Linked DNA regions of Homo sapiens: all the other regions are linked to region 2. Evidence: fine-mapped expression QTL. A gene starts in region 2. Each other region holds a variant in brackets. All regions are shown on one strand. Distances are between the middles of the regions. Region 1 overlaps DNAI7 (dynein axonemal intermediate chain 7). Region 2 holds the start of IRAG2 (inositol 1,4,5-triphosphate receptor associated 2). Region 3 overlaps IRAG2 (inositol 1,4,5-triphosphate receptor associated 2).

Region 1 (5,000 bases), 92 kb after region 2:
TCCCAGCTACTCAGGAGTCTCAGGCAAGAGAATTGCTTGAACCTGGGAGGTGGAGGTTGCAGTGAGCTGAGATCATGCCACTGCTCTCCAGCCTGAGTGACAGAGTGAGACTCTGTCTCAAAAAAAGAAAAAAAAAAGGCCATAATTTAAAAATCAAAAAATAATAGATGTTTGAGTGGATGGGGTGAAAAGAGAACACTTTTACACTGATGGTGGGAATGTAAACTAACACATTCCTGAAAAAACTAAAGGTAGATCTACCATTTGATCCAGCAATCCCAGTACTGGGTATCTGCCCAGAGGAAAATAAGTCATATGAAAAGGACACTTGCACATGCATGTTTATAGCAGGACAATTTGCAATTGCAAAAACATGGAACCAGCCCAAATGCCCAGCAATCAACAAGTGGATAAAGAAAATGAGGTATATGTGTACCATGGAATACCACTCAGCCATAAAAGAGAATGAAATAATGGCATTTGCAGCAACCTGGATGGAACTGGAGACCATTATTGTAAGTGAAGTAACCCAGGAATAGAAAACCAAACATCACATATTCTCACTTATAAGTGGGAGCTAAGCTATGAGGATGCAAATGCATAAGAATGATACAATGGACTTTGGGGACTCAAGGGAAGGGTGGGAGGGGGATGAGGGATAAAAGACTACACAATGGGTAGTGTCCACTGCTCGGGTAATGGGTGCACCAAAATCTTAGAAATCACCACTAAAGAACTTATCCATGTAACCAAATGCCACCTGTTCCCCAAAAACCTTTTGAAATAAAAAAAAAACAAAACTACTGCCAAAATTAACAGAACTATAATTAATTATTACTACATGAGGCCACTTTGAGATAGATGCATAAGAAAAAAATGCTTTAGCCATGTAAATGCAAGTAATAGTTCAAATTTTATGGTTCCAAATTATTATTTCACAATTTTAAAATCAATAATGTGAAATTCTTATGTAAAATACTGATAGGTTCTTTGTTTTCAGGAATATAAAATCACAAATCCTCCCTAACTTTATTTTAGGTTAATGGGGTTTAATTTTGTATTTTACTCCATATTGAAACAATGTTAAGTCCAAGACCTATTTACCCATTCTATTTTTTTCCCCCTTGGAAATGAGTTTGTCATGTCTAATCACATCTTATTAGCTAAGTCACATGGTCATGCCTAGCTGCAACATGGAAAGGAGTATAATCCTTCCATATTCCAGGAAAGGGAAGAGAACTGGAAATACTATTGTCTCTAGTAAAGCTTCTAAACTATCTGAGAGTTCACATGAAATTTTTATTTTAAAAACTATCTTATTGCCCAAAAAACATTTAAACAAAAATGACAAATTTTTAAAGAAGAATAAATCATTTCCCTCCTCTCTAAAATATGAGCTATGCACAGATTTCTGGGTTCTCATTTCCTTATGCCTTTAAAATTTTCACGTGCTTGTCATTAGAGTCTAAATACAATTTTTTTATACTTAGCATTATGTCATATCCATTTTTCTACATTGCTACAGAGTCTTCATAATTTTTTTTTTTTTTTTTTTTGAGACAAAGTCTCACTCTGTCACCCAGGCTGAAGTGCAATGGCATGATCTCGGCTCACTGCAACATCCGCCTCCTGGGTTGAAGCAATTATCTTGTCTCAGCCTCCCAAGTAGCTGGGATTACAGGTATACACCACCACGCCCGGCTAATTTTCTGTATTTTTAGCAGAGACAGGGTTTCACCATGTTGGCCAGGCTGGTCTCGAACTCCTGACCTCAAAGTGCTGGGATTACAGGCGTGAGCCACCACGCCCGGCCTATAATTTTTGATACCAGTGTAATATTTTAAATTGAATTCTTAATAAATCACGTGTTCTTAGAGTATCTAATAATTCCTATTCTGATTTTAAATTTGTATTCAATCTAATCCTTAATCCTTTCCTGTGTTTAAAGAAAATAAATCAATAAACCAATACATTTCATGTCTTAAGCACTTGTCAGAAAACTTGAGATATTTTGGTCCCTCATAACATGCAAATAGGCTATTAAACAAAGAATCTGCTTAGCTCTGAGAAAGTATTACTAAATTCTTAAGAGACATTTTTTCTAACATAAATAAGTAGCTTGACAATCTTGCCAACAGAAAAAAGAGAAGAAGCTAACTAAAGGAATATGATTATTAAATTGGTCAAAAGCTATCTCTAAAGATGTCA[G/A]ATTTTCAGAGAAGAGTGTAATATTTTAAGAAAATTAATTTTTACTTTATAAAATTATTTCTTACAAAACCAAAAACTGAGGAAGTAACAGGGTAATATAAGATTATTTACTGTAAGTTTCCATTTAATGGCAAGTTCCCTTGAATTTGAAATATATAATAAATATACAAAAATTAAATGGCATCAAAGCTGCCCGGTTGTGCACCTAATATAAAAATAAGCAATTCCTGTGCTGAACTTTAGGATGTTGAAGCTAGTGGCTCAACTATTAATTGACTATTAATGGAAGGCAAGAAAAAGATACATATTAAAAATTGAGGCACTGGCAAGAAAGTGGCTCCCAGACAATTTCCAGTTGTTTAGGAAAAATCTTGAGAACACTTTAAGGGAATCTAATAACGCATGCTGCATGAATAAAAAAATGTGTATATTTAAATGTGTCCTACCATTTTCACTTCAATATCACCTTGTTCCTCCTCAACTTTTATTTCTTCCTCCTGAATTAAGTGAGACCCTCTTTCTTGTTGTTTGGACTCTTCTTCGACCTCCTTGCTGATTGCTTTTTCTACATTCTTAACATCATCTTTGACAAGCTCAGTTACTGCAGAAGTGTATTCTTTTGATGGTGTTGAAACAGGGTGCAGTGCAGAAACATGATCATAGTGGGTATGCAGGAGTCGTACAGCAATGTCACTTGTTGCTAATATCCTTGGAATCTCAAATCCAATTTGTGTTTCAGAGAATCTAACACTTCTGTGCCTGTTAATAATTAATTACAACAAAAAAAGATGAGACCCTAGGAAACTCTAGATCTGTGTCAAATTTATACCTAAGCAGTATTTCTCTTCACTTTAATTTTGCTCCAATTTTGACTCTGATCATATGTGCTTTCTTTGCAGCATTTGGACCCAGTTGCTGATGCTATCCTTCTCAAAACAGTTTATTGGGATCCATAACCCCACAGTCTTCTCCATCTCTGGAAGTTCCTTCTGTCTCCTCTATATGGCCTTCTTCCTAACCATCCCTTCAATGTTGATATTACTCAGTGCTCCATCCTAAGCCCTTTTTCTCCTCTCCCTCAACATACACTCTCTGGATATTTTTACTTCTGTGGCCTGAATTACTATCTATACTATCAGAGGTTTGTAATATGAGCTTTATTTTTCCTAGGTTTGGGTAGGAGTATGATGCATCTCTGAATGGACTTTAAGCGGTCTAAAAATGCCCTTCCACAAGTGCAAGCATCTGTAATTACTTGACATTCGGAAGAATCTATGACTCCCAAAAAGTGAAGAACCATTGGTCTATATGTTGATGACTCCTCAAAATATACTACACCTCAGATTTCTCTCAGTGCCTTCAGCCAGTTGCACTTTGATATCTTGTAAGTACTTCAAACTCAGCCAGTTGAGCACAGAACTCATCATCCTTACAACCCCCACCCCAATCACCATCAAAGTGAAACTTGTTCTGCCTGCACTATTCCTTATCTCGTAAAAGACACCACCTAATTCTCTTCTTAAACCTGGGTAGTGAGTACAGAGCTATTCATTTTATTTTTATTCTTTTAAAACTATAAAGAGTTATTTCCTTAACTTTTCTGTACTTGACATATTTTACAATGAGAAAGGTTACTATATTGTCTCTGATTAGATGTAAACCAAAAAGTTGGTTTTTTTGTTTTTCATAGCAAATGGAAGGAACTTAGGAAATATTTTTTTCTTCCCTTTTACTAACTATCAAAAATAAAGTCTAGTTTTTTTTAAATGTCACATAGCTAGTCTTTTCAGAGGTAGGACCAGAACCTAGGCCTCCTAATTTTTATTCTGGTAATTTTTCTCTAAAACTCACTGCTATACTAATGCAAGTAACTTAAAATGTTTAAAGATCAAGCAGCAACCAAGCACTCATGAATTTGCCATCGTCACTGTCATTCCTCAGAAAGATGTTTCTTTGTTGAAAACTATTGGGGAAATAGCACTAAAATGTCCAAGAAATACACATATGAAAACCTATTATGTTTGCCGGGCGCAGTGGCTCACGCCTGTAATCCCAGCACTTTGGGAGGCCGAGATGTGCGGATCACCTGAGGTCGGGAGTTTGAGACCAGCCTGACTAACATGGAGAAACCACGTCTCTACTAAAAATACAAAATTAGCCAAGCATGGTGGCACATGCCTGTAATCCCAGCTACTCAGGAGGCTGAGGCAGGAGAATCGCTTGAACACAGGAGGCAGAGGTTGCAGTGAGCCGAGATTGCGCCCTTGCACTCCAGCCTGGGCAACAAGAGCCAAACTCTGTCTCAAAAAAAAAAAGAAAAGAAAACCTATTATTTTTAAGTCACAAAGATACATTAAAAAAAAAAAATCCAGATTGCCATATAGAAAGTACCTATTAGCTGGGCGCAGTGGCTCACGCCTGTAATCCCAGCACTTTGGAAGGCCGAGGCAGGCTGATCACTTGAGGTCAGGAGTTTGAAACTAACCTGACCAACATGGTGAAACCCCGTCTCTACTAAAAATACAAAAAAATTAGCCAGGTGTGGTGGCGTGCACCTGTAATCCCAGCTACTCAGGAGGCTGAGGCACAAAGAATCGCTTGAACCTAGGAGGCAAAGGCTGTAGTGAGCCGAGATCACACCACTGCACTCCAGCCTGGACGACAGAGCAAGACTGTGTCTCAAAAAAAAAAGAAAAAGAAAGCACCTACCACTTCTACTTTTTTGGAGGGCAGAGGAGTTAAGTGGGTAAAGAGAAGAGGAAGACCTGGTATTTAATGAGTGTATATTTGTA
Region 2 (7,227 bases):
TTTGCTGTGCAGAAACTCTTTAGTTTAATTAGATCCTACTTGTCAATTTTTGCTTTTGTTGCAATTGCTTCTGGTGCTTTTGTTGTGAAATCTTTGCCTGTGCCTATGTCCTCAATTTTACTGCCTGGATTTTCTTCCAGGGTTTTTATAGTTTTGGGTTTTACACTTAGTCTTTAATCTATATTGAGTTAATTTTTGTATAAGGATTGAGGAAGGGGACCAGTTTCAATTTTCTGCATGTAGCTAGCCAGTTCTCCCAGCACCATTTATTCCCATTGCTTGTTTTTGTCAGGTTTGTCAAAGATCAGATGGTTGCTGGTGTACAGTCCTATTTCTGAGTTCTCTATTCTGTTCCATTGGTCTATGTATCTGTTTTTGTACCAGTACCATGCTATTTGGCTACTGTAGCCTTGTAGTATAGTTTAAAGTCGGGTAGCGTGATGCCTCCAGTTTTGTTCTCTTTTCTTAGGATTGTCTTGGCTATTTGGGTTCTTTTTTGATTCCATATGAATTTTTAAATAGTTTATTCTAATTCTGTGAAGAATGCCAATGGCAGTTTAATGGGAATAGCATTGAATCTATAAATTACTTTGGGCAGTATGGCTATTTTCATGATATTGATTCTTCCTATCCATGAGCATGGAATGTTTTTCCATTTGTTTGTGTCCTCTCTGATTTCCTTAAGCAGTGGTTTGTAGTTCTCCTTGAAGAGGTCCTTCACTTATGGGGTTAATATTTAGAAAATATAAGAAACCCCTACAACTCCAGAACAACAATAAAAAAACACAAATAACTAGATTTAAAAATAGACAAAAGACTTGAATAGGCATTTCTCAAAAGAAGACGATAAATGGTCAAACAGGTGTACAAACATACTCAACATAACTAATCATTAGGAAAATGCAAGTTAAGACTATAATTAGATATTGTATCATACCTGTTAGGATGGCTATTATTTTAAAAGACGGCCGGATGCGGTGGCTCACGCCTGTAATCCCAGCACTTTGGGAGGCTGAGGCGGATCACGAGGTCAGGAGATCGAGACCATCCTGGCTAACAAGGTGAAACCCTGTCTCTACTAAAAATACAAAAAAATTAGCCAGGCATAGTGGCAGGCGCCTGTAGTCCTAGCTACCCGGGAGGCTGAGGCAGGAGAATGGTGGGAACCCGGGAGGCGGAGCTTGCAGTGAGCCAAGATTGTGCCACTGCACTCCAACCTGGGCAACACAGCGAAACTGTGTCTCAAAAAAAAAAAAAAAAAAAAAAAAAAGCTACTCGGGAGGCCGAGGCAGGAGAATGGCGTTAGCTTGGGAGGTGGAGCTTGCAGTGAGCCGAGATTGCGCCACTGCACTCCATCCAGCCTGGGTGACAGAGTGAGACTCCGTCTCAAAAAAACAAAAACAAAAAACAAATAAAAAAAAGTGTTGGTGAGGATGTAGAGATATTGGAGTCCTAGTGCACAGTTGGGGGAATGGAAAGTGGTGCAGGCACTATAGAAAATGTTATGGAGGGCCGGGTGCGGTGGCTCATGCCTGTAATCCCAGCACTTTCGGAGGCCGAGACAGGCGGATCTCGAGGTCAGGAAATCGAGACCATCCTGGCCAACATGGTGAAACCCCGTCTCTACTAAAATACAAAAAATTAGCCGGGCATGGTGGTGCGTGCCTGTAGTCCCAGCTACCCGGGAGGCTGAGGCAGGGGAATCGCTTCAACCCGGGAGCCAAAGGTTGCAGTGAGCTGAGATCGCGCCAGTGCACTCCAGCCTGGAGACAGAGCGAGACTCCGTCTCAAAAAAAACAAACAAACAAACAAACAAAAAAAAACAGTTACAGAGTTTTCTCAAAATATTAAAAATTAAACTACCATCTGATCTAGGAACCCCACTTCTGGGTATTTATCCAAAATAATTAAAATCAGCACCTGGAAGAGCTATTTGCATTCCCATATTCACTGCGGCATTATTCTCAATAGCCAAGATTTGGAAACAACCTGAATGTCCACGGATGATTGGATAAAGAAAATTTGGTATATAAATACAAGGGAATATTATCCAACCTTTAAAAAGAAGGAAATTCTGCCACATATGACAACATAGATAAACCTGGAGGACACTATCCCAAGTAAAATAAGTGAGTCACAGAACAACAAATACTGCACGATCCCACTTCTCTGAGGTATCTAAAATAGTTAAACTAATAGAAAGAGAGAGAATAGTGGTTGCCAGGAGCTAGGGGAGGGGAAATGAGGAGTTGCTACTCAATAGGTATAAAGTTTCAGTTATGCAAGATGAAGATGTTCTAGAGATCTGCTGTACAACATTATGCCTGTAGTTAATAATACTGTATTGTACACTTAAAAATTTGTTAAGTGGGTAAATCTCCTGTTAAATGTTCCTGCCACAGTTAAAGAAAAAGAGAGAAAAAGAGAGTGAGAGAGACAACGATAAGCTATTGAAGGACGCTCAGTGGAAAGTGTGGTGATGTAGGCAGTTTTTATTTTTGCTTAGGATTTTGTTTGCTTGTTTACCAGTATGGTAAGCATTCTGTGAGACCATTCTTGCCTCTCATGTGGTCCTTCGTGTAACCAGGGCTGGATTTGTGCCAGTGTGCAGTGGCATTCTGACTAAATGTTAACGTTTGAGAGGCATGCACAAGGCCTACGGCTGACAATGTCTTCCTTGCTGTTTTGCAACTCCCGACATTTATCACCACTTTGAGTTAAGGTCCATATTCAAGTCAGATTGTTTCCAGATAATCATTGAGGTACTGGCATGTAACACACATTAAATAATCTCATCTGCTAACAGAGAGTAAGTGCATTTTTACATGTTTTAGAGATTAGAATTGGATCCAAATGAGGTGTAACGTAATGGCACCATGAGATCTGTGGTGGGGAAGGGTGATGGGGAGAAAAGCTTCAGCAAAAAGAGGACTAAAGTAGAAATATCAACCGCCAGCTTTCATCTGTGCCTGGGGGCGGTCCTTCCTGTGCTCGTGGCACGTGTTTATACTATGATTGACAACCCTTAAGGAGAAAGGCTAAGGTCATGAAACAAAGCTCTCTTTCCTTTTCTTTTCCCTCCCCCTACCTTTACCCCATTCCTTTCTTTTTCTGTAAAAGCTAGCTGTGATGTGTAAATGTTGCACCTGTCACCCTGACCTCATTGTAGAGCCATCTTCTGAGTAACTGGCAACTGGCAACTGATGCTAAGTGCTATGAATGCAGCTGGTGGGAACTGAACACACCAGTGTAAAAGATGAAACTAGAAGTCCTTATCTGTAAAGTGAGGGTGTCAGGCTAAGCGACCAATAAGCTTTGCTTAAGATTTTATATTTGTGAAGCATTTATATGTAAATACTTTCACTTTTTCCTCTGATCTCTAAGGAAGTGGTGTTAAGTTTGAGTTTGTCATAATTTCACAGGGTGACTCTTAGTTGAAATGTCACTGACAGCTTGCGGTTTGGACTTTTTTTTTTTTTTTTTTTTTTAACTCCAGTCAGAAACAACTAGAAGCCATTAAACAACTACAGGAAGATGCTGTCAACCAGGAAGGCATCCTTAGGAAGAGGCTCCAAGAAACCAGCCAACGGCTGGAGGATGTGGAGGAGCAGGTAGGGTGGCTCATGGCTACATTAGATTCAGGGGACATCTCCTCAGATGCCCTGCAAACCATGAAATAAAAATGGAGGAGGAACAACAACAACAAACAAAAAAAAAAAGCAAAGAGGAACTGCAAGTTCAGTCCCTAGCGACTAACAGTGAGCAGAGGAAGTAAAGGGGGAGTTGTAAGAGAGGCGGTATCAACAGCCTGCTGATGAAAGAGGCGACTCTGCAGAAAGAGGCAACTTGACATATCAGGACTTTAACCGCTGTAGAAATAGCTCAGGCATACCAAGCCCATGCAAACACAGAATTGCAGAAGTTCAGGAGAGGCTTATCACTTCCCTGAGAAGAAAAACACATTTTCAGTTTTGCCTGCATCATAAGAGTGAGCACTCCATTGCTTTCTTTCCTGGCCACACTGCTACAATCCAGCACTAACTATCCATGTCCAGGGTAAGGATCGAGATCGAGAAGCCCACACTGCCAGTGAAAAAGCTACGTCTTTACTGCATAAATTAGAGGAAGCAATTTCGGAACAACGGAACCTTCAAACTATAAATACTGAATTATCGAACACTTGCCAGGCACTTCAGCAGAAGACAAGGAAACTGAAGAGTGAGTAGCAAATATTCATTTATGACCCAGTTTTTGTCCACCCTCAGGCGGGGCATAGGACTACAGACATTTTTCTAGATTACAGCTAGGATATTATTCCTGAGTTTATGACAATGAAATGGTTTGAGAAGGCAATATTGTGGGGCTTTCAGAGAGGTTTGCTGAGTGGCTAGGTGCATGCATGGGTTTAACCATTAACTTCCCTTTTTGCCTTTTTATTATAAGCTGGTTTTGTCTGTGGCTGTTTTTTTCTTTTAAAATTAATTAAAACTTCTCAAAATTTCTAAAAGTAAACAAGGAGAAAAATCTAGTATGCATGGTATATTTGAACTTGCAAGTTGTTATATATTATACTCTGATTTTATTAGCTAGTTTTTTTCCTCTCATATGGTAGAAAAGGCCTTGCTCGTCTATTTTCTTTGGAAATTTTAGGGGGTTGGGCAAAATAATTATGAATTCAGTGTATATCAAAATATCAAATGTGTGAAAATTCTTTTAAAGTTTTAATGCATTCTCTACATACATCTACATACATATTTTGCATTTTAAAAATTGGAATATTTGTCATTTTTCTGTATTACCCAAAAGTATATAAACAGTTACCAGAGATTTATGTGAGAAGACAGTTGTCACATTACAGATGTCAGATTAGCTATAAAATTGTTTCATTCTAGAAACCTAATATGGTAAAAATAAACCTTACTTATTTAGCCATTTATCAGACAATTGCTTTTGTTCAGCCAGTTTCTTGTTCTAGCAGTATAAATATTCTTTTTATAGAAAGTTACTTGGTTTGAGAAATAAACATTGTTTATTTGTTAATTGTTATATAATTATAAATAATTATATATTTAATATATAAGCTTAAGGTAGGCTAGAGATGAAAAATTTCAGACTTGTGTTTGTTTTGGATTTATTGTACCCTTTCTACTATTATCTGAGAAAGCTATTTAGGAGTTTAAGAAATAGTCTAGTTTTAAAATAGCAATGGTTTGCCGGACACAGTGGCTCACCCCTGTAATCCCAGCATTTTGGGAGGCCGAGGTGGGCAGATTGCTTGAGCCCAGGAGTTTGAGACCAGCCTGGACAACATGGTGAAACCCTGTCTCTACAAAAATTACAAACAAATAAATAAATAAAACATTAAAATAGCAGTGGTTATTCAACATATTATTGTCATAATTTTTAAACCTTTATTGAATTTGCCAGTTTTCAATATTCTGATTCACTCTGTTAAGCTAGTAAGGCAGTCTTTAAATTACACAGTCTGTGTGTTATTTTACTACTGCTCAGAGGGCATTGGAGAAGGTTCCCTTGTGATTAGAACTGTTCATGTTGAGACATGAATCATAAGGCATTCCAAAGTTGGTTTAAGGTGTGTCTGCTTTAGACACTGTGCCCAGGACTATTCTTTTGCTCCAGTTTTGCCTTTTGATTAAATCAATATTATACCTGAGTTTTATAAACTACTAAGAATTTGTTCCCCTTCCTCACTGTGATTTTCTTGCAGTATTTTCTTAGAAGAGTCAACTTTAATAACTTACCCCAAAGTGCACGTTCTTGATATTATGAACTTGCTATTGTTGTCTTCCCAGTTTATCTTCACGGCCCAATAGATTCAAATACACTTAAAAGCAGAATATGAAAGCTGCCCTGGGTTGATACGTGTATTTTTTTCTGCCTGGATAACGTAGAGTGGACACTTCCTTTCTGTCTTGAGTTATGCATAACCTGTCCAGATTTATGAAATCCCTTACTTGTTACTTGTATCTTTTGCTGCCCAAAAAACCCATACAAATCAGGATTTTGCTTATATGACCATGTACTTACGATCTTTCTAACAATGCCCTTTAAATTCAATCTTTGAGAGAAGAGGGAAATTTAGATAGCACGTATTTTCAAAATGTTCTATATAGCAGATGTTCCAGATAGACTGCAAACAAATGTCAATGACTGCAGTTATCACACAAACACGTCCACGCACATCCCGCCATGACCACTGCCACCCCATGCTGTTTGATTTCTGAGTCAGACATCTGATTCTGAGTCAGAAAACAAAACATATTTATATCTATTTAGCTTTTCTGAAACTCTCTGGCTAGTTTAATAAATTCACAAAGTATTTCAGACAATTGTTTTCTGATCCATCTAAGTTGCATCAGCACATTGTGTGGGGATGCAGCTGGTTTGTCCAAATGTTCAGATCAATGTGCATAATGTTCACACTACAACTGGAAATTTATATGTGATGTTTGATCAGAAATCCTGAACTTTATCTTGAATAAATGATATTGTTCAAGTTTTCAATTGCCTTCAGGACTGGGCTGATTTATGAGGCAATTCATGTGCATGATATTCTTCAAGAAATGTGCCATGAAAACTGTTCAATTGCTTGAATGGTTACTTATATATTTTATTTCTTCTGCATCTAAACTTTGTTTATATCCAAGTATCTTGTTAATAGACACATGACTGGATTATAATTAGTGTTTGCTTTAAAAAGGAAATTTTTTTTATTATACTTATGTTCTAGGGTACATGTGTACAACGTGCAGGTTTGTTATATATGTATACATGTACCATGTTGGTGTGCTGCACCCATTAACTCGTCATTTACATTAGGTATTTCTCCTAATGCTACACCTCTCCTATCCCCACCCCATGACAGGCCCCAGTGTGTGATGTTCCCCGTCCTGTGTCCAAGTGTTCTCATTGTTCAATTCCCACCTGTGAGTGAGAATATGCAGAGTTTGGTTTTCTGTCCTTGCGATAGTTTGCTCAGAATGATGGTTTCCAGCTTCATCCATGTCGCTACAAAGGACATGAACTCATCTAAAAAGGAAATTTTTAAAAGCTTATAGGATGTGTATATAACATATTAGGGTGAATCTTATGTACAGAAATCATGGACTAATTGATACAATCCAAAACTATCACCCCCTTACTATTCACCATCTCTTGTTCCCATCTGACGTGAAATCTTCATGGAGTCAGTCTTCTCATAGACAA
Region 3 (7,227 bases), 35 kb after region 2:
TACAAAATATAAAAACAAATCTGCCGGGTATGGTGGTGCTTGACTGTTGTCTCAGTTATATAGGAGGGCAAGGCAGACAGATCACTTGAGCCCAGGAGTTTGAGGCTGCAGTGAGCAATGAGCATGCCACTGCACTCCAACCTGAGCAACAGAGCAAGACCCTGTCTCAAAAAGAAAAAAAAGAGAGAGAGAGAGAAGACTCATTTCCACTTCTATGAATTAATAATCATTAAAGAGTAACTACAGGTCTAATTTCATGATTCTTCAAGGGTCTTGCTTATGTCTTGCTTATGTCTTGCTATGTTGTATGCATGGAGGGGTGTGTGTGTGTGTGTGTGTGTGTGTGTATTATTGTTTTTTTCTTCTCAATATACAAGCATTGTTCTAGTTAAGCATTTGGTTGCAAGAAACAGAGACCCATGCAAGCTAACTCAAGTTAAGAGGAGGCCATGGCACAGACTTGGGGCAAAAAAGTAGATGAAAATTTTTCAGCATTTCATTCTAAAGATAGTGAAATGATTGGATTTGTGATTTGGAACAATGACATGATGTCATTCGTTTCCTTTGTTATCCAGAGGCGATTGATTCCAAGAACCCCACAGATACCAAAATCAGAGAATGCTCAAGTCTCTTATATAAAAATTGCATAGTATTTGCATATAACCTAATGAAACGGGAGAGTTCCCTGATTCCCCTTGCAGGACATGCAGCAGTGGTGTGTCTCACCTGCTTAGTCACCCCATAGTTCAAGCCCCTAGGGGGAACATGCAGACCAGCAGCTGCAGAGGCCAGGGCAAGCGCTTTTGGGCTCTGCCCCCTGGCAGCATCTAGGGGTCAGTGTCTGTGATTCCCAAAGTCCAAGTGAGTGTGTGTTACAAAGCTCTTTCAGATTTGCCATCTGCAGACAGCTTGTGTGTTAATTAGCTCAATGGACCCTCAGCCTTATCACAAGGGCAGAGGGCCAGTGTGACAGCTTTCTGTATCCTGAGCTGTCGCTCAGTGTCCCAAAAGAATCAGATCACACGTGAGCTGGAAGGATGAGTGCAAGGTTTTACTGAGTGGTGGAGGTGGCTCTCAGTAAGATGGATGCGGAGCCAGAAGGGGGGATGGAGTGGGAAGGTGGTATGGAATGGGAAGGGGGTATTCCCCTGGAGTCAGGCTGCCCAGAGGCCATACTCTTCTCCAACTGCCCCAGGCTAAACTCCCCTTGGCATCCAGACATCCCCCCTCTTCTCTCTTTCTCTGCCATGTCATTCCACTATTGTCAGTCTGCCAGTCTGCTGGTCTGCCAGTGTTGTGTGCTCACTTCAGCTGCTTGTGTTGTGTGCCCACTAAGGTCTCGGGTTTATGTTGGCACAGGATGAGGGGCATGGTAGGCCAGAGTGGTCTTGGAAAATACAACATTCAGACACAAAAACAGGAGTGCCTGTTCTCACTTAGGTCTGCAGGCACAGGCCTGAGGGTGGAGCCCTCACTGGGGACCCCGCCTTTCTCTATCCAGCACTTCCCTGCCCACCTCCCATATCACTAACACATCCTCTTATATACTTTAAATCATCTCTAGACTGCTTATGATACCTAATACAGTATAAATGCTATGTAAATAGTTATAATGACAAGAAAGGAAATCTGCGTGTGTTCAGTACAGATACAACCATTGTAGGCCTAACTACATTTTTTTTAGTTAAATCCATAGATGCAAACCCACAAATACAGAGGGCCAGCTGTATAGGTAGGATATAGTGTTGGCTAGCACATATGCTGAAAATGGTTGCTCCTAGTAAAAAATGAACAGAAGAAAACTCAAGTCCTTTACTCTTTCATAGTAGAATCTTCTGAGAGAATAAAATTCCTTCTCATCTCAAAAAAAATATAGACATAAAGACACTTTTTAAAATAATGGATCAATTTGCCATTGGAAGTTGTGGGACTGGTTAGGATACTATGGCAATAATTCAGATGAGATGAAGGTAGTATGAATTTAGTGAAGGTGGAGAAAAGGAGATAAATTTGAGAAATATTTAGGGGTAGAATTCACAGAGGATGATGACATGTCACGGGTATGGGAAACGGTAGATACCCAGGCTTATGGCTTAACCTACCGAATGAATAGAATAACATGACAGTAGGGAAGGAGGAAGGAGAGTAGAATTTGTGGGGTAAAATAAGATCAGTTTGAGACAAGTCAAATTTCAGGCTGATCTGAGACATTGATAGTCGGTAAGGAGATTTTATATACGGCTGCATACCCATATTCATAAACTCACCTGTGCGGTTTTTGAAAGCTGACATATATTTGTGAATTATCAGCAAAAATCCAAGTGTGTGGATGAGATTTCCCAAGGACTGTGGCAGGAAGGAAGGGAGCATTGAGGATAATGGAATCCTGGCTAACAATATCTACTAGAGAAGGCAGAGGAGACTGAGAACGGGCTGTGACGCGGGGCTGGGGCATCAGAACAGGGAAATCAAGGGGAAAAAATCTTCAAGAGGAAAGGATGTATAGATAATTTTAGATGCTATAGTAAGGTCAAGTAAGATAAAGACTGAAAATTATCCACTGGATTTGGCAATAGGGAGTTGATAGCTGGTGAGAACACTTTTCTTGGAGTGCTGTGTAAAGGGGTAGAGTAGTTAATTGATCACGAATGGGAGAGGAAGAGCTAGAAACAGCAGCCACACACAACTCCTTATGTGACCTTAAAACATATCTATATGCGGTAAAAGCCTAACATAACACTGTCTTAGCAGCCATCTTTGTCACAATTTCTCCAAAAACCTATCTAGAAAACTCCATGTGATAGCCCTATATCACCCACACCTTACCTTTTCATCTATCCAGTCCTACCTCTTCATCAAACTTCAGCATGTTTCTTGTCTGCAGAAATTCCATGCTACTCAAGTCATGGTGTCATGGTGCCACTCTCCTTCCTTTTTTTTTTTTTTTTTTTTTTTTTTTTTGTTGAGACAGAGCCTTGCACTGCTGCCTAGCTTGGAGTGCAGTGGCATGATCTCGGTTCACTGCAACCTCTGCCTCCCCAGTTCAAGTGATTCTCCTGCCTCAGCCTTCAGAGTAGCTTGGATTATAGGCCTGCACCACCACCCCTGGCTAATTTTTGTATTTTTAGTAGAGACGGGGTTTTGCCATGTTGGCCAGGCTGGTCTTGAACTCCTGACCTCAGGTGATCCACCCACCTCAGCCTCCCAAAGTGTTGAGATTACAGGCGTGAGCCACAGCGCCCTGCCATTTCCTTCCTATTAAGAGCACTTGTTTATCTATCTCATTTATTTGGCAATTAATCCTAGTTTGCATTGTTGTAATTCACATCATGTTTGCATCTTTTCATGTATTTACGCCCTTTTTGCTTCAACTAGATTGGAAGC[G/A]CCCTTGCAGCCAATTTTATTTCCTTCTTAACAGCATTAAAAACTGTAGAGCAGGGGTCCCCAGTCGCTGCTGAGCCAGGGATCAGAACCCATTCGAGGCTGTTAGGAATTGCGCCGCACAGCAGGAGGTGAGCGGCAGGCCAGGGAACATGACCACCTGACCTCTGCCTCCTGTCAAATCAGTGGTGGCATTAGATTCCCACGAACCCTATTGTGAACTGTGCAAGCGAGCCATCTAGATTGCATGTTCCTTAGGAGAATAACGCCTGATGATCTGAGGTGGAACAGGTTCCTTCAGAAACTGTTTCCCCCTCACCTCACCCCCGTGGAAAAACTGTCTTCCAGGAAACTGGTCCCTGGTACCAAAAAGGTTGGGGACTGCTGTTATAGAGTGTTTTTGTCAGAGTAGGCTTAGGAGAGGACAGGAAGTAGGAAAATGACTGGTTATGAAGTATTTCCACTCTATGTACAGTGGTAAAATCTTATGATTTTAGGAAGCCAAAGAGGAACCAGAAACAATAGAAGAACATAAAAAAGAACATGCTTCAGGAGGTAAGGAATGTTTCTTTCAATCCCCATGTGAACTTTTGTTCTCTGCTGATATTTTTGTGGGTGAAATCTGTCTGAATAAAGCTATGTCACTTACAAATTCTGCATCTCTGGATAAGGTCAGTCAATAGGACCGATTATTGATTCCATTTGTGTCATTTTCAAAAAGCCACATTTGCATTGTGTTGACTGTGCGATCCCAGAAAACCTGTAATAACTGGTGCTCTATTGTGAACTAAGAACCAAGCGAATGTTGGTAGCAAATGCTATGCTCTACTGTTAGTTCTTTTTTAGTATCCCATCTAAAAGTAAAGCCCCTATTTACAGAATAAGTGCTAATATGCTTTTCCCCTTAGCCTACCTCCATTGGGATGGAATAGTGGATAGAGTTCAGGCTTTGGAGTCATAGAGACTCTACATGGGATCAATCTCTGACTAGCTATTGATCTTGGAAAGTTACTTAACCTTAAGTCTCAATTTTCTCATTTGCAAGAGGAAAATGAAAAGAAGAAAAGTACACTTAATTGAGAATATATTCTATGCTGAGAACTAGGCTAATTTCATGTGCATAGTTTTATTTAGTCCTCCAAATACTATGTGAGGTGGTAAATTGTGATTCAGTTGCCTAGCCTATAAAATGTGGACAATAAAAGTATCTACAACAGAAGGTTTGCTGTGAGGATTGAATAAATTAATATGTATGAAGCACTTAGAAAAGTGGCACCAAAGTTCTCATAAAAGTTAGTTACTATTATAAAAAAATCAATCTTATCTTAGATGATAAGATATCTTTATCTTATCAATCTTATCTTAGATGGCTTAATGACTTTGTGACTTGTTCAAGCTCACATAACTGTAAGATTCAAACAAAGCTCAGACTTAAACCAAGTTTGTTTGACTTTAAATCCAATGCTCTTAATAACTAATACATAGTCCTTGGTAAAGTTGTCATAAAATCATATGTGTAAAATGCTTTGCTCTGTGATTGGCAATATAATAAAGCCATGGTTGATGCCATGTTTATTGTCACTGTTATTGTTACCAGTATTATTATTACTACTATTATTATTACTACTACTGTTCCTGCTACTGCTAATAAAGCCTTGATCCAAAGAAGAACCAGGATACCAGTAGGAGGTTTAGGCTTTTAGCCATGGGATCAAGTATAGCAAACATGCAAATGCAAAGAGAACAAATTGGGCTGTTGCTTGATTCTGAGACATCTTTAAGTATGAAAGACTATTCACATGCTGAGGTATAAACAAATGATTGTAATGGCATTGTGATCCCAATAGCTTAGCATAACATTATAATTTAAGTGCATACATTATTAGCTGGCGATCATCTCAGACATATTTAAATGAAATACTTTTGTTTAGTGGAGATATAACATTAGATCAAATGTGCTTTTACAGGTCAAGCCTTTTTAACCAAATAATATTTTATTATATTTTAATAGACTCTGTGGTTTCCCCTCTTCCTGTAACCACTGTGAAATCGGTTAACCTTAGACAAAGTGAGAAGTAAGTGCTTCTTCATGTAGCATGTTAACATGTTTTATTTTTCTGTTGGATTATGTTTAAATATGTTTTTTGTCTTATCCTACAGCACTTCTGCTAATGAGAAGGAGGTGGAGGTGAGTTTAAAGCAAATTTTTTTTCCTTTTAAAAAAGTGTTCCAGACTCACCTGCTACAGTCACTTCATGTTTTGGCACAAGCTCTCATATGCTCGGTGTCTGTTTGGCTTGGCTGTGACTCAGTGCAGGTGAACCCTGTGCATGTCAGCATTATGTTGCTGGGGGGAGAAAGAAATGCCTCAGTATAAAACAGTATTAAACTGAAACATCTGACCACATCCGGTTTTCTCTCCTCTTCCTCACCCTCACATTATTTTGACAACAGGCAGAATTTCTCAGATTATCTTTGGGATTTAAGTGTGACTGGTTTACCTTGGAGAAGAGAGTGAAGCTTGAAGAGAGGTCCCGTGACTTGGCAGAAGAAAATTTGAAGAAAGAAATCACTAACTGTTTAAAACTATTAGAGGTGAGAATCAGAACATTTGGGATATAAACATTTGGTCTAGCCAGGCACAGTGGCTCACACCTATAATCCCTGCACTTTGGGAGGCCAAGGCAGGAGGATCATGGGAGACCAAGGCAGGAGGATCACTTGAGGCCCGGAGTTCAAGATCATCCTGGGCAACATAGTGGGACCCCATCTCTACCAAAAAAAAAAAAAAAATCAGCCAGGTGTGATGATGTGTGCCTGTAGTCCCAGCTACTTGGGAGGCTGAGGCAGGAGGATCATTTGAGCCCAGGAGTTGGAGATTGCAGGGAGCTATAATCACACCATTGCATACCAGCTTGGGTGACAGAGTGAGACCCTGTCTCAAAAACAAAACAAAAAACACCCACAGAAAACATTTGGTCATATTTTCAATAACACTTTCATAATTACATATGAAATTACTTGTATGACCCAAACCAGTACCAGGTGCCAAGCTCTGCCTGACCCAAATGTGAATCATAGAAAGTAAGAATGCAGGATCAGGCTGAAATAAAAGTTTCACTAATAGGAGAGTATCAGCTATAAAATGAAAAATGTCTTTTTAAAGTAGGTTGCATGAGTCATCTGCCTTTTCTCTGGATTTTCAAATTTCAGGCAGAAAAGGAATCATACAGAAAACTGAGCAATAGGAAATATCAATTTTAAGCTTCAAAGAAGAGAATCGAGTCTATTTCCATTTATGATTAACTGAGGAAAGAGAATGGTAACTGATTCAGTCTTGCAGATGATGGGCAAGCCTGCTGTAGGGTACTGAGAGAAGAATGGGGGTGCAGAGGAGTGTAACAACTACTATTATCCTTCCATATGGTGAAGTTACCATACATTTAGAGATGAGCTGGAAAATTAGTAGGCTTAGTTTTGGATGAAGGACATTAAAATTGAGAAACCATGGAAAAGAATCACGTTATTTTTTACCGTGATAAAATATGTAACATAAAATTTATCATCTTGAACATCTTCAAGTGCACAGTTCAATGTAAGTTTATTTACATTGTTGCAAAACAGATCTTGAAACTCTGTACCTGTTAATTTCCCTTTTCCTCCTTACCCCATCCCCTGGTAACCATTATCCTACTGACTCTATGAATTTGACAACTTTAGGGACTTTGCATAAGTGGATTCATACAGTACTTGTCTTTTGTAACTGGCTTATTTCACTTAGCATAATGTCTTCAAGGCTTATCCATATTATAGCATGTGAGCGGATTGCCTTCTTTTTAAGGCTCA

Evidence for each region. PIP is the estimated chance that this variant, and not a neighbour inherited with it, causes the effect. A credible set is the group of variants that fine-mapping cannot tell apart.
Region 1: its variant is the best candidate, but not a certain one, in a credible set for the expression of IRAG2 in sun-exposed skin (GTEx, PIP 0.83).
Region 3: its variant is the best candidate, but not a certain one, in a credible set for the expression of IRAG2 in tibial nerve (GTEx, PIP 0.79).

Annotation. Positions count from the first base shown.
Region 1 is chr12:25,141,711-25,146,710 of GRCh38, forward strand. It overlaps DNAI7 (dynein axonemal intermediate chain 7), which reads right to left. Exons shown (of 16, transcript NM_018272.5): 9 at 2,655-2,967. Among named protein-coding and RNA genes, the nearest start is that of DNAI7, 51 kb to the right of the region's middle. The variant G/A (reference allele first, on the strand shown) is at 2,209.
Region 2 is chr12:25,048,739-25,055,965 of GRCh38, forward strand. IRAG2 (inositol 1,4,5-triphosphate receptor associated 2) reads left to right here and starts at 3,968. Exons shown (of 22, transcript NM_001366544.2): 1 at 3,968-4,218. RefSeq lists enhancers at 3,323-3,432, 3,473-3,842.
Region 3 is chr12:25,084,222-25,091,448 of GRCh38, forward strand. It overlaps IRAG2 (inositol 1,4,5-triphosphate receptor associated 2), which reads left to right. Exons shown (of 22, transcript NM_001366544.2): 11 at 3,879-3,936; 12 at 5,393-5,456; 13 at 5,542-5,569; 14 at 5,836-5,976. Among named protein-coding and RNA genes, the nearest start is that of IRAG2, 35 kb to the left of the region's middle. The variant G/A (reference allele first, on the strand shown) is at 3,385.